Linked DNA regions of Homo sapiens. The protein of the gene in region 1 purifies or fractionates together with the protein of each later gene. This does not show direct contact. Each region holds a gene or a part of one and is shown in the gene's direction. Other genes may lie near its edges.

Evidence for each region. Proteins that work in one complex are often made in the same cells at the same time.
Region 2: the proteins of MAGEB3 (region 1) and MYH3 purify together in Homo sapiens (co-immunoprecipitation; one large-scale study listed by IntAct). This does not show direct contact.
Region 3: the proteins of MAGEB3 (region 1) and CD200R1 purify together in Homo sapiens (co-immunoprecipitation; 2 studies listed by BioGRID and IntAct, with this or other methods). This does not show direct contact.
Region 4: the proteins of MAGEB3 (region 1) and MYH2 purify together in Homo sapiens (co-immunoprecipitation; one large-scale study listed by IntAct). This does not show direct contact.

What each region holds. Positions count from the first base shown.
Region 1 is NC_000023.11:30,235,531-30,238,130, forward strand, and holds the end of MAGEB3 (melanoma-associated antigen B3), read left to right. Parts: intron 1-333; 5' UTR 334-394; coding exon 395-1,435; 3' UTR 1,436-1,965; downstream 1,966-2,600.
Region 2 is NC_000017.11:10,633,034-10,636,963, reverse strand, and holds part of MYH3 (myosin-3), read left to right. Parts: intron 1-1,110; coding exon 1,111-1,229; intron 1,230-1,400; coding exon 1,401-1,597; intron 1,598-1,940; coding exon 1,941-2,124; exon of another isoform or gene 2,125-2,279; intron 2,280-2,781; coding exon 2,782-2,947; intron 2,948-3,248; coding exon 3,249-3,373; exon of another isoform or gene 3,374-3,548; intron 3,549-3,930. UniProt on the Homo sapiens protein: Muscle contraction.
Region 3 is NC_000003.12:112,968,328-112,972,257, reverse strand, and holds part of CD200R1 (cell surface glycoprotein CD200 receptor 1 isoform a precursor), read left to right. Parts: intron 1-3,930. UniProt on the Homo sapiens protein: Inhibitory receptor for the CD200/OX2 cell surface glycoprotein. Limits inflammation by inhibiting the expression of pro-inflammatory molecules including TNF-alpha, interferons, and inducible nitric oxide synthase (iNOS) in response to selected stimuli.
Region 4 is NC_000017.11:10,528,883-10,532,812, reverse strand, and holds part of MYH2 (myosin-2), read left to right. Parts: intron 1-924; coding exon 925-1,180; intron 1,181-2,738; coding exon 2,739-2,981; intron 2,982-3,072; coding exon 3,073-3,249; intron 3,250-3,331; coding exon 3,332-3,477; intron 3,478-3,560; coding exon 3,561-3,651; intron 3,652-3,733; coding exon 3,734-3,930. UniProt on the Homo sapiens protein: Myosins are actin-based motor molecules with ATPase activity essential for muscle contraction.

The sequences.
Region 1 (2,600 bases):
AGAAGACCCAGCCCTGACAGTTTTTATGATGGTCCTGAGTGTGAACTGAGAGAAACCTCCTACCCCAGAGTAAAAGGAGATCCACAAGGACTAGACATGCCACGGCTGCTCTCAGTCCCAGTATACACAGAACAGGGCTGGCAGGCTGTGGCCTAAGGCACACTTTAATTACTTTCACAGGGTTCTCAGAGGACAAACTGATCAGAACAGAAGCCCTCTGGGTTTCCAGAGCAGTGCTCTCACAGAAAACTGCAGAGGCGACCTTCTTTTAAATCCAAAGTGGTACCTCTCTGCTGAAGGCACTCATACCCTCTCTTTCTCTCTCTCCTCCAGGTGCCTGTATCACCTGCCCTTCTGCTGACACTCCTGCCTGCTGTTCCTGACTACAGCCATCATGCCTCGGGGTCAGAAGAGTACGCTCCATGCACGTGAGAAACGCCAGCAGACCCGGGGTCAGACCCAGGATCACCAGGGTGCTCAGATCACTGCAACTAACAAGAAAAAAGTATCCTTTTCATCCCCTCTTATTTTGGGGGCTACTATCCAGAAAAAGTCTGCTGGTAGGTCACGTAGTGCTCTCAAGAAGCCTCAGAGAGCACTATCCACCACTACATCTGTAGATGTTTCTTACAAAAAGTCATACAAGGGAGCCAACAGCAAAATTGAGAAAAAGCAAAGCTTCTCTCAGGGTCTATCCTCCACTGTGCAGTCTCGCACAGACCCTCTAATCATGAAGACAAATATGTTGGTGCAGTTCCTGATGGAAATGTACAAGATGAAAAAGCCCATTATGAAAGCAGATATGCTAAAAATTGTCCAAAAAAGCCATAAGAATTGCTTCCCTGAGATCCTTAAAAAAGCTTCTTTCAACATGGAGGTGGTATTTGGTGTTGATTTAAAGAAAGTTGATTCTACCAAGGACTCCTATGTCCTTGTCAGCAAAATGGATCTCCCCAACAATGGGACAGTGACTCGTGGGAGGGGATTTCCCAAGACAGGTCTCCTGCTGAATCTCCTGGGCGTGATCTTCATGAAGGGCAACTGTGCCACTGAGGAGAAGATCTGGGAATTCCTGAATAAGATGAGAATATATGATGGGAAGAAACACTTCATATTTGGGGAGCCCAGAAAGCTCATCACCCAAGATTTGGTGAAGCTTAAATACCTGGAGTACCGACAAGTGCCCAACAGTAATCCTGCACGCTATGAATTCCTGTGGGGTCCAAGAGCCCATGCTGAAACCAGCAAGATGAAGGTCCTGGAGTTTTGGGCCAAGGTCAATAAAACTGTCCCCAGTGCGTTCCAGTTCTGGTATGAAGAGGCTTTGAGAGATGAGGAAGAAAGAGTCCAAGCTGCAGCTATGCTCAATGATGGCAGTAGTGCCATGGGCAGAAAGTGTTCCAAGGCCAAGGCTAGCAGCTCTTCCCACGCCTAGTGAAGTTGAAGCAAATTTTGCATTTTGTGGTTAAAGAGGGCAGTCACTGTTCCAAGGAGTGAAGGACTGGGTGTTACTGGAGGGAACACACTGTATAATACCTTTTGTTTCTGTTCTAAATGGATAATTTGAAGTTTTATCTGTATTTTGGGGCATATTTTTCAAATGTTCCTTTTATTTAACATTGTAATCTAAGTTTAGGATTGATACTGGTCACATTTGTTGTTTAAGAGTAAAAATTTTGCTGTTTTGTAAAACAGATTGAGAAAAATTCGATCTTATTTAGTGATCTGTTGCAAGATAACTTGGAATTAGAATAAGCATTTCCTTGAAAATGTTTAAAAAAAAAAAGTCAGCAGTAAAATGTATGGCATTAAGAAATAGAGAAAGAGTGTAAGATGGTCAATATTTGGTTTCCTAAATGCTTTTACTCTGTGCTTTAAGAAAATGAAAGATAAATAACCATATATGTCTGGCTTACTTAAGAATGTAGAATTAAATCATAATAAATTAGACCTCATGCTGACACACTCATTCTCCAAGTGTTAATTGAGCATCTGCTCTTGGAAGGATCCATGCTAATACTGGGAGGGCTAAGAAAAAGAAGACCTAGCAACTGACCTTAAAATTATAAGGTCGAGAAGCAGCTATCATCTAAGGAAAATGGTGATATACACTCTAAGACCAAAAGGATACATGATAAGAAGGGAGGGAGGTGGTTCCACATGAGAACAGTCAAGTATGAATTATCTAATCAAGGCGGTGTTGGGCCTAAGGAAAGTGCAGGTCCCTCAATGGGAGTTAATCTAAGTGAGGCTCCATGGTGGGCTGGATGAGGCTGTGGGAATGGCGAGCAGGGGCCAGGCTCTTAGAAGTTGCCTCTCACGCAGTGGCGGGCGCCTGTAGTCCCAGCTACTCGGGAGGCTGAGGCAGGAGAATGGCGTGAACCTGGGAGGCAGAGCTTGCAGTGAGCCGAGATTGTGCCACTGCAGTCCGGCCTGGGCTAAAGAGCGGGATTCCGTCTCAAAAGAAAAAAAAAAAGAAGTTGCCTCTCAGAGGTGCGAGACAAAGCTTGGAATAGGAAACAGTTCTTAACAGTTACTTTGGGATCATGGATAAATCAGGGAGAATCTGGGGTAGGAATGTGTCCTGTGCTCTTGTCCCA
Region 2 (3,930 bases), on another chromosome or scaffold:
GCCAAGACAATGAAGAAAAGAAGTTTGGTAGCCACATTTTTTTTTTTTTAGACAGAGTCTCACTCTCTGTCACCCAGGCTGGAGTGCAATTGTGTGATCTCGGCTCACTGCAAACTCCGCCTCCCGGGTTCAAGCGATTCTCTTGCCTCAGCCTCCTGAGTAGCTGGGACTACAGACGCATGCCAACACACACGGCTAATTTTTGTATTTTTAGTAGAGACAGGGTTTCACTGTGTTGGCCAGGCTGGTCTTGAACTCCTGACCTCGTGATCCGCCTGCGTCGGCCTCCCAAAGTGCTGGGATTACAGGCGTGAGCCACCGCACCCGGCCTATGGTGGCCACTTTTACCATGTTGGGGGATTCACGTCTGGAGCCATAAAGCCCCATTCTATGTTTTTCTCTTACCTCTATGTAAGCATATAAACTTGAACTTACCCTATTCCCCCAAGAGTCTAACTAGAGATATAAAGCTCTAAGTATTTCCCTATGTATTTGTCGATAACAAATCAATAAACAGCTGGAAACACCTGCCACTGGGGAGGTCTGATGGGAGTTATTAGGTGCTCCTGGTAACGTTTACATTTACAGTTCTTCTCAATGGATTTTTTTTTTGACAGACATCAGTCCCACCTTCCAGTAGTTTACAACAATATCTTTTTTTTTTTTTTTTTTTTTGAGATTGAGGCATGATCTTGGCTCACTGCAACCTCCACCTCCTGGGTTCCAGTGATTCTCCTGCCTCAGCCTCCCAAGTAGCTGGGACTACAGGTGCCCATGACCACGCCCGGCTAATTTTTGTTTTTAGTAGAGATGGGGTTTCACCATATTGGCCAGGCTGGTCTCAAACTCCTGACCTTGTGATCTGCCTGCCTCAGCCTCCCAAAGTGCTGGGATTACAGGCGTGAGCCACTGCACCTGGCCTACAACAATACCTTATCAGTTCTGCTTTCAGTTTCCTTTTCATGAACCATATACCTTCTCCCTGAAGAAGAAACCATATCTTATCATTTTCTGTCTCCCCAGATCTTAGCACAGTGCCCTACACATAATAGAAAGTTGGTGAGTGAATGAGTGAATAAATGAAATGAAACTATTTCCTTCTGGACACAGGTGAGCTGAGTCGTCAGCTGGAAGAAAAAGAAAGCATAGTATCCCAACTTTCCAGGAGCAAGCAAGCCTTTACCCAGCAAACAGAAGAGCTCAAGAGGCAGCTGGAGGAAGAGAACAAGGTACACCATTGAAGGAAGACTTCTTTGCCCTTATTTTTAAATATCACCTGTAGGAGGAAAAAATAAAAGGCAACTTCATTCAGAAGGTGGTGATAGAAGGGACACACTTGGATTGTATCATGCACCTGGCACTAAATATATCAGGTGCTCTTCTCTTTTTAACTTCTGCAGGCCAAGAACGCCCTGGCGCACGCCCTGCAGTCCTCCCGCCACGACTGTGACCTGCTGCGGGAACAGTATGAGGAGGAGCAGGAAGGCAAAGCTGAGCTGCAGAGGGCGCTGTCCAAGGCCAATAGTGAGGTTGCCCAGTGGAGAACCAAATACGAGACGGACGCCATCCAGCGCACAGAAGAGCTGGAGGAGGCCAAGTGCGCAGCTCTGTTTGCTTTTAGAAGAACTACTTAGGAATGAATTCGATGAATTTATTTTTATTACTAGGCGTTTCCCCATCTCATGTGTCTTTAAATGCGGTGCTGGGCCATTAGAGGGACCTGGCGTTAGCACATTTTATTAAAACAAACAGCTTTGATCTTGGTCAGACACAAGGCAAGTTATTGATCCCAGATTTTGAGTAGACAGGAAATTCTCCTGGGCGTATAAAAACACATGGGTGTCTGAATCACATAGATTAGTGATTCCAACTTGATGAATAGTGATGTTCAAGTGGATGGAAACTGAAATAACAGCTGCTTCTCTTTCATATTCTTTAAGGAAAAAACTTGCTCAGCGCCTTCAAGATTCCGAGGAACAGGTTGAGGCAGTGAATGCTAAATGTGCTTCACTGGAGAAGACCAAGCAGAGGCTGCAAGGAGAGGTGGAGGATCTGATGGTTGATGTTGAAAGAGCCAATTCCTTGGCCGCCGCTCTGGACAAGAAGCAGAGGAACTTTGACAAGGTGTGGGGTCCGCTGTGTGCTGGGTGAATGCCATGATGTAAGGGATTCCTAGCAGCCGTGGAAGGAGGAGAATGCATCCCGGACCTGACTCTGCCCTCACCAGCAGTGTGGCCTTGGGCAAGTCCCTGAACTTCACCGGGCTGTAGTTTCCTCATCTGCAAAACAGAATGGGAATGGGCTGGGGGTAGAGGTCCCTTTCAAATGTTGTCCGTGGAAACAAACCAATTTCTACAATGTCCGTGCAGTCCTAAGCATTTTTCCTTTCCGTACTACTGGTCTGTCTAAGCTGAGATCCTATTGGGAGGCTTTCTGGAAGCCCTTCTTTCAAGATGGCAGATAAAGTTGATTGGAACCAATGCTTTAATGAAATATTTAGAAGTACAGGGCCCTTTTTATATTAGGAAAAGGACAATTATGCCCAGCTAATTCCTTCTCAAAGGATCTATTTGCTTTTTCAAGATGGCAATTGTTCCTGACTCATTACCTTGAGTACATTTATGGAACAGAATCTTGATTAGCCCAATAATCGACAACAAGGAGCCAGGCAAGTGATGCCAAGTGTAGCCCTAACTCTGCATTTAATTTAGTTATTTAGTATTTTGTTAGAAACCTAGAGGAGAGCTCAGAAACGGAGAGAACTTCCGTCCGGTGTTTCAGGTGTTGGCAGAGTGGAAGACAAAGTGTGAGGAGAGCCAAGCAGAGCTGGAGGCATCCCTGAAGGAGTCCCGCTCCTTGAGCACTGAGCTCTTCAAACTGAAAAATGCCTACGAGGAAGCCTTAGATCAACTTGAAACTGTGAAACGGGAAAATAAGAACTTAGAGCGTAAGCTATTCGAAACCCTCTGAAACCTCCTCCTTTCATGCTCTATTGCTCGAGAGCATGCTGGCGTGGGTGTGGCTTCATCACTCAGTTTCCTGCACACATGTGTGTTAATGCACATGCAGAAAGTGTTCACCATCTGACGGGTTACGTTTTAGCCTCTCTCTGTACAATATCTTATCTCTAGGAAGCAGGAAACCTTAGGATTATAATAAACCAGGTAAAAAGCATTGAGTCAATGCTTTGCATGTCTGGAAACCCACGCAGAGGCGCTCATATGCAACTGAAACTTACTTCTTTACAGAGGAGATAGCAGATCTCACAGAACAAATTGCTGAAAATGGCAAAACCATCCATGAACTGGAGAAATCAAGAAAGCAGATTGAGCTGGAAAAGGCTGATATCCAGCTGGCTCTCGAGGAAGCAGAGGTGAGTGCTGGGAGGCAGGCTCAGGCGCAGATGCAGCCATGGTGAGCCACGGCCAGGGAGGCTGGCTGCTCCATGCTGTGTCTCCATTTTTGCCTTTGTCAAATCACAGTCCTAATGCCTGCTGCTTTCCCGTCACACAGCAAAACTGTGAGGCTGAATAATACCTGTGAATTATCTTAAATTTATTGGAGAAGACTGTCATATTAAATAGGCCTAAAGATGAGATTTTACAAAATATTACATGAATTAAAAATATCTAGAAAGTGCTTTATGCTCCTAAGAAATATGATTTAAACATTATTATTGGTTGATAGTATAATCAAAACCAAAAAGCAATGAAACGTGCTTTTATTTCTGCACTGAAGATAAATTTGGGACTTTTTTTTTCTTGAGACAGAGTTTTGCTCTTGTTGCCCATGCTGGCAATCTAGGCCCACTGCAACCTCTGTCTCCTGGGTTCAAATGATTCTCCTGCCTCAGCCTCCCGAGTAGCTGGGATTACAGGCGGGCACCACCATGCCTGGCTAATTTTTGTATTTTTAGTAGAGACAGGGTTT
Region 3 (3,930 bases), on another chromosome or scaffold:
AGGGTTTTGTCCTTATTAATAACTTTAGTCCTATCTTCCTTTTCTAGTTTGCATATTTGTGAATTTACATGTTATAATAATTTATAGGTGTGTTTTTCTCTAAATGTTCATGCTTAAGCAATTAATAAATTAATTAAAAGTCCTTATTAATGTCTGTGTGTGTGTGTAGAATAGTGCCTAAAAGTTATTAGTAATCTAAATTAGAAAGACAAAGGTAAGATGAAACAATTGGTGAACATTTAAAATCAGTAAATCTTGAAATTGTATATGAAACTAGTACAAATCTAAAGGAGGGAGAAATTACAGTGGGTTGGAGTTGTGGAGGATTTTATGGAGATGGGTCTTGAGCTAGGCTTTGAATGACAGGTTTGGATAAATGGGGAAATGCAGAGAAAGGAATTGGAAGGATGGGATGTGTAGCATGTGCAAATGCAAGGTGCTTCAGAGAGAGAAAGAGCTGTAGCTTGCAGGAACAGAGGTTGTGTGTTAAATAATAGTAGGAAATAAGGCTGGATTTTGGGGGTCCTTAATAGCTAAATTAAAGAACCTGGGTATTAGTCAGTAGACAATGAGGAACCACCTGTTCTTTGGTGAACAGGAAAATTTATAATTAAGTAGGATTTTTTGGAGAATAATGTGGTAACAGTGTCCCATTGAGTGGCGGTGGCACTAGGTAAAATATTTATTTTGAAACATGAGTCAAGAGCTTCTGCCCTGGGGTTCTCATTTGAAAAAAGTTCTGTGATGCCGCTGAGGTATATATGTGACTGAGAAGGGAGTTTCGTTGTGGAGGAAGATATTAAATTCAGTATAGGAAGGGAGGACAAGTAGGAGGAAAATTCCTACAGATACTTGGAAATACAGTCAGCCCTCTGTATTGCATCCCTGGATTCAACCAACTTCAGTTGAAAATATAAAGGGAAAAAATAGATGATTTCATTAGTACTGAACATGTACAGATTTTGTTCTTGTCATTTCCTAAATAATTCAATATAATAGCTACTTATGTATTATTTACATTGTATTAGGTTTTATAGCAATCTAGAGATGATTGAAAGTATGTGAGAGATTGTACATAGGTTATATGAAATACTACACCATTTTATATTAGGGATTTGAGCATCCTTGAATTTTGCCATCTCTGGGGGTCTAGAACTAATCCCCCAAGGACACTGAGGGATGACTGTATAGAAAACTCTAGTGTTTGTGAATCATTCATGAAGTAGATGATCCATCCCACGAACAGAATAAACATATGGACAAAAACAATAGAATAAGCACTAGAGATATTTGGATTTGGGCTCTAAGAACCATACTTATCTCTTTCCAGTCTATAAAAGATAGGAAGATCTGAGAAGAGACAGGAAGGGAGCCAAAGTGGAGTATCAATTGAGTGCTTAACCTCATGTAGGAGGAGATACTCTTCTGAAATTGAGGATTAAGATGAGACATTAGATAGAGGGATGCTAGTAGCTTGAGGATGGCAATAAGGTAATGGGAACAAATGAGAGAGTTTACCGTAGATAAATTTCCTCCCAATAAGGTCATGAATATTTCAGTTAATGGCATTTAGTTAATAAAATGACCCAGTTGTTGTTTGATTTTATGTTGTGTCTGAAAAATTAACCATTTGTGTCTGAAAAACCATTTGTGTCTGAAAAATGTAGTAGCCATCAACATGTTTTTACCTCTTCTGCCTTATTATCACTCACATACATTTGTCAATTGCTGACTGGGATTTGGGAGCAGATCTGTGGTTATAAAATACCTTTGGACTATGTGATGCTAGTAGGCCCTAAGAATCAAGTCAACAATCATTACTTTTTAAATAATAATAATGGTAATAAATATCACTGATTTATATAATTCATATAATAGACACAGTCACAATCAGCCCTTTTTCCCCCCAGGAAGAAATGATATTGTTCATGCATTAACACTAAGCAACAACTTCAGAGTTTTTCTACATAGAATTTATATGCCTAGACCCCATTCTAGGACCAAAATCTTTAAGGAAAGCAATACCAAAAAGTTCCAGGATTAAAGCAGGGCTAAAAGTTTTTCTATTTCTTTTTTGAGACAGGGTCTTACTCTATCTATCACTCAGGCTGGAGTGCAGTGGTGCAATCATGGCTTACTGCAGCCTTGACCTCCCAGTCTCAGGTTATCCTCCTGTTTCAGACTCCCAAGTAGCTGGGACTACAGGTGTGCACCACCACGCCAGGCTAATTTTTTTTTTTGTATTTTTTGTAGAGACAGGGTTTTCCCATGTTGCCCAGGCTGGTCTTGAACTCCTGGGTTCAAGCAATCCTCCTGCCTTGGCCTCCCAAAGTGTTGGAATTACAGGCGTGAGTCACTGTACCTGGCCAGTTTTTCCACTTTTGAAGAAATAATTTTCTTCAAAAATGTCTGTTACTTTGAGTTATTGTTGCTGTTGCAGGTTCTCTTGGAAGTTAGACTCTGAGATAGAGTTTTGTGTACAGTATGCTTGTGAGCAGAGGGAGAAGTCTACCTGCAATCTCAACCAACTGACACCCTCACTGACCCCACAGGGAGCTCAGGAGCTAGATTGGCCTTAGAGAGGCCCTGCATTGAATAAAAATGGCTGTTCCTTTATAACTCCATCTAAATCAGTCGTTGGATATGGGCTCCCCTGGAAAGGGTCTGACTTTGGTCTAAGTAACTGAAGTCATCCCTGGAGAGGCTGAAAACTGAAGACTGTCTGTTGACAGTGATCCTAGTGGCAGGAACAAAAAGTCAGAGGCAACTGTTGGTGGCACATACTATGTCCACTCTAGTTGTCATTTCTAATACTCTTAATTCCTTCTTGAATTTCCAAGTTTCTACCTGGTATTATTTTCTTTCATCCTGAATAATTTCTGTTATTGTTTCTAGTAGTGTAGGTCTGCTAGTGAGGAGTTCTCTTAGTTCTTAGTTCCCTTTTTATACATATTTTCCCCAATATCTTGTCTCTCTGTTCTTTTGATTGAATAATTTCTATTGCTATATATTCAAGTTCACTGACAATTACAATTTCCTTTCTCCTCTTCATTCTTCTGTAAAGCCCTAGTTAATATATTATTTTAGATATTGTATTTTTCAATTTTAAGATTTCCATTTATTTGTTAAAAGTTTTTTTTCTCTGCTGAGATTTTTCTGTGTTTTTATTCATTCATTGTGAGTATATATTTCTTTATGTCACTAAGCATAGCTGAATGTTGCTGTAAGACTCTTGTCTGAGAATGCGAGTGTCTGGGTCAACTTGAAGTTGTTAGTCTCCCTTAATGTATTTTCTCCTAAGCATAGGCCACATTTTCTTGGTTCTTTGTAAATTAAATAGTTTTATTTGGGTTTTGAATGTTGCACAGATTCTGTTATATTGCTGTGTTGATATTTTACTTGGTTGGACCCAAACTGCAAACTCTACCCCTTGGACAGCATCTCAAATCTGAGTTCTTTTACTGGTAGCTAATCTGCTTTGACTGTGACCTGCAATGTGTGGTTTAGAGTCATCAGAGATATGGGTAGAGTGTATGCAGAATTTGGAACTCTTTTACTCTGACTCTGTCACTTTTCAGAGAGTAAAGTTGCCCTAAAATCTGCCTGCTGGTTCTTCAGAAAACTGTGGGCTTTCCATTAGAGTAGCTGCCTAATGTGGTATCATCTGCAGCCCTCTCTGGGACTAACATCGGTAAAAATGGGGAAATAATGGGAACCTACACCCACAACTCTGATCCCCTATTTCCTTCTTCCAAGCATTGACACCCTTCAAGAATTTTTCTGCTTCCTCCACTTTCCAGTAACCTCAGGTAGTTGTTTTTATATTTTGTCCACAATTTATAGTTCTTACCTGTGGAAACTCACTGGCCCATAAAGAAGTGAAACTTTCTTCAAATATACATATTTTAAAATATTATTGTATTTTTACAA
Region 4 (3,930 bases), on another chromosome or scaffold:
TAACACAATGCATCAGGGAATGTAGCTATTTGGTGATCTAATTTGATGCAAGGACAGAGTTCAAAGACTATAGAGCCAGGTGTCTCAAAGTACAGGATGTCTGTGATCAGGACCATTTCTCCATGTTGAGAAAGGCATTTTACATTGCCACCTATACATCTACACATATACATATGTGTATGCAGATATATAAATAATTTATATGAAGCAAATTTTATTTTTACCACTTGTAATTATGCTAATATTTTCAACTATATTCCATTTTATTAAAAATAATAAATTTTGGTCATGATCCACGATATATATATATTTGGGTAATTGTCTATATATGGGGTAATTAGCTGTAAAAATCATTTAGATGAAAACAAAAGTGGTATTAGAGAATAGAATACAAAATTCACACAACATTAACATATAAAGCCAGATATTTTCTAAGAAATTCTGAGTTTTTAATATCTCCTGCCCCATATACCCCTAAAGAGCTGTGTTCCCCCTTCACTGCCCTTAGTGGTGTTTTAGTAGCAATGTTTGAGAAGCACTGACATACAGCAAGGCTTCTCAAAGGGTGCTCCTTGGACTTGCAACATCAGCATTTCTTGCAAACTTGTTAAAAGTGCCAATTTTCAGGCTCCACCCTAGATCTTCTGAATCTGAATCTGAATCTACGGAGGTGAGGTTCAGGAGTCAGTATTTTAACAAGCCCTTCAGGTGATTCTTATGCATGCCAAAGTTTGAGAAGCAGTGATGTAGAGAAATGAGTGACCTTAGCAAGACCTTGACCATCATCCCGAAATAGAATTTTTTCATCTGCATGTTTGAAAGCAGAGTAGGAACAAGGTGAAGCAGAACCTCCAACTCTCACTGCCAAGGTTTCATCCCATTGCATCAACCACACAATACTAATTTGCATCAATTAAATTTCAGGGAGGCCATCTTCTGTATCCAGTACAATATCAGATCCTTCATGAATGTCAAGCACTGGCCCTGGATGAAACTCTTCTTCAAGATCAAGCCTCTGTTGAAGAGTGCAGAAACTGAGAAGGAGATGGCCACCATGAAGGAAGAATTTCAGAAAATTAAAGACGAACTTGCCAAGTCAGAGGCAAAAAGGAAGGAACTGGAAGAAAAGATGGTGACGCTGTTGAAAGAAAAAAATGACTTGCAGCTCCAAGTTCAGGCTGTGAGTTGGAATATCACCCTTGGTATCACTAACCAGGATGCAGGTGCTAGAACTTTGGCCATTGTGGGCCATGAGTTGGGTAATTGCAAGGGAGACACTCATTGGAAGGAAAAGGTTAAAACACTCCAATGGCACGAAAAGGTCCAAACATTCCTCCATTGCCCAATAACCCCCAACAAACCAGCACCAGGGCAGTGAGGTAGAAATATCCCTCATTTTCCATTGTACACAATTTCATCAAACCACAAGATTTTTGACTTATTTTCTCTTTAAATACAGTCCATAAAAATGATTTTAATATGACACAATCCCAAATAAAATATGAAGGGGAGGATAGCATGGAGAGAGTAATATTTTTCGGAAACTTCCTTGAACTTCTAGATGTCCACGGGTCTTAAATTATAATAGGAACAGCTGACATATGACAGCACTCTCATCAAATTTTACTGAATTATCGTGTGATATTGATCTCAAAAACTCAGACTCCCTCTTTCTAATCTGTCTCCACAGTCAGTGTCCCATCATGTCACACCCACATTGCTGCATCAGCACCAAAGTTGCTCAGCCTACTTCCCAATTGTCTCTTCTTCCATCCAGCCTGCTCACTGCCCTCTCCTGAACCAATCATTTTAGAACTGCTTCCATCAACTTCAGACTATAATTTATAAGACTATGTTTTATTTGGAGTGAATTGAATTGGTCTACTTATCATAAAGTCATATTTTTTTCTGTTAAGACTGGTCTCTCTGTCAACGTTGAGCAGTATAATAACTCCTTCTAGATTACAGAAGGAAAAAGCCCTCCAAATCTACCCTGTATTCTCTTCTGTTGTCCCCAGAGATTTATGCAGAATCTGTACTAAACCACTGTATTCGTTACACAGTTATACATAGCACCCTGCATTCCTTAATGTAGTCAAAGACTGATATGGAGGATTACTGATGAGTATATATTCCAGTGTCTCCTTCATTTCCCGCCTGCCCTGTCCCCCTTAATTGGAAACAGCAGGTTGCCAGGAATTTCTTGATTACTTTATGTTTCAACTTGAATTTAGTACATCATAATCAGGAGCATCCTCCAGTACTACAAAAAAAAAAAATCAGTAGCAGCTGTATCTTGAATTTGTCCTGCTAGAATGCTTCCCCACAACCCTCCTGCTCCTCTCCACAATAAGTTGATTTCTGCAAAAGCAAATCCTACCCCTCTCTCAAGGCCCAAATCAAACAGCAATTCTTTCATGAAACCATCTCTGATCCAACTTCTCTGATCTGTTATGTCACTAATTGCTTTCTACATTAATGGTAGCTTTTGGGAAATAGGTTTTCTAATCTACTGTAGAATACATTCTTTTAGGGGAACAAAATGACAACTGGTACATTTTGGCTTACCCACATGTGGAAAATGTACACAGTAGGGTGGTTCATGAAACAAAAATTTGTGAAGGAGTAAACAAATGAATATAGGAAATTCAAAAGATCAAATGCAGAAACATACACTCTTATCCATTGTGAAGTATTTCATTCTTTCTTCCCAATTTTGATCTTGTTTCCAACTTAAGGAAGCCGAAGGCTTGGCTGATGCAGAGGAAAGGTGTGACCAGCTAATCAAAACCAAAATCCAGCTAGAAGCCAAAATCAAAGAGGTGACTGAGAGAGCTGAGGATGAGGAAGAGATCAATGCTGAGCTGACAGCCAAGAAGAGGAAACTGGAGGATGAATGTTCAGAACTCAAGAAAGACATTGATGACCTTGAGCTGACACTGGCCAAGGTTGAGAAGGAGAAACATGCCACAGAAAACAAGGTATCAATCATATTCTACAGTACTGTATAGAGGTTCTGCCACCCAACAAAGGTGCTTTATAGCAACTAAACTGCTTTCTTCACCTTTGTAGGTGAAAAACCTCACAGAAGAGATGGCAGGTCTGGATGAAACCATTGCTAAGCTGACCAAGGAGAAGAAGGCTCTCCAGGAGGCCCACCAGCAGACCCTGGATGACCTGCAGGCAGAGGAGGACAAAGTCAACACCCTGACCAAAGCTAAAATCAAACTTGAACAACAAGTGGATGATGTAAGTCTGGTATCATCAAGGACATTCTTTTCTTCTAAAGGAAGATAAGCATTCCTTCTGATTCAACATAATTTATATTTAGCTTGAAGGGTCCTTGGAGCAAGAAAAGAAACTTCGCATGGACCTAGAAAGGGCTAAGAGGAAACTTGAGGGTGACTTGAAGTTGGCCCAAGAATCCATAATGGACATTGAAAATGAGAAACAGCAACTTGATGAAAAGCTCAAAAAGTAAGTAAGAAAGAATTGCTTATGGATTTGCTTCCAACATTAGATACGGACTAAATTGTTGTCCTTTGCTACTTTTCTAAAAGGAAAGAGTTTGAAATCAGCAATCTGCAAAGCAAGATTGAAGATGAACAGGCACTTGGCATTCAATTGCAGAAGAAAATTAAAGAATTGCAAGTAAGTACATGATTTTCATCAGTCTGGCTCGGAGGCAGTTATGACACAAAGAAGCTGAGTTTGTATTTTCCACCATTCCCAGGCCCGCATTGAGGAGCTGGAGGAGGAAATCGAGGCAGAGCGGGCCTCCCGGGCCAAAGCAGAGAAGCAGCGCTCTGACCTCTCCCGGGAGCTGGAGGAGATCAGCGAGAGGCTGGAAGAAGCCGGTGGGGCCACTTCAGCCCAGATTGAGATGAACAAGAAGCGGGAGGCTGAGTTCCAGAAAATGCGCAGGGACCT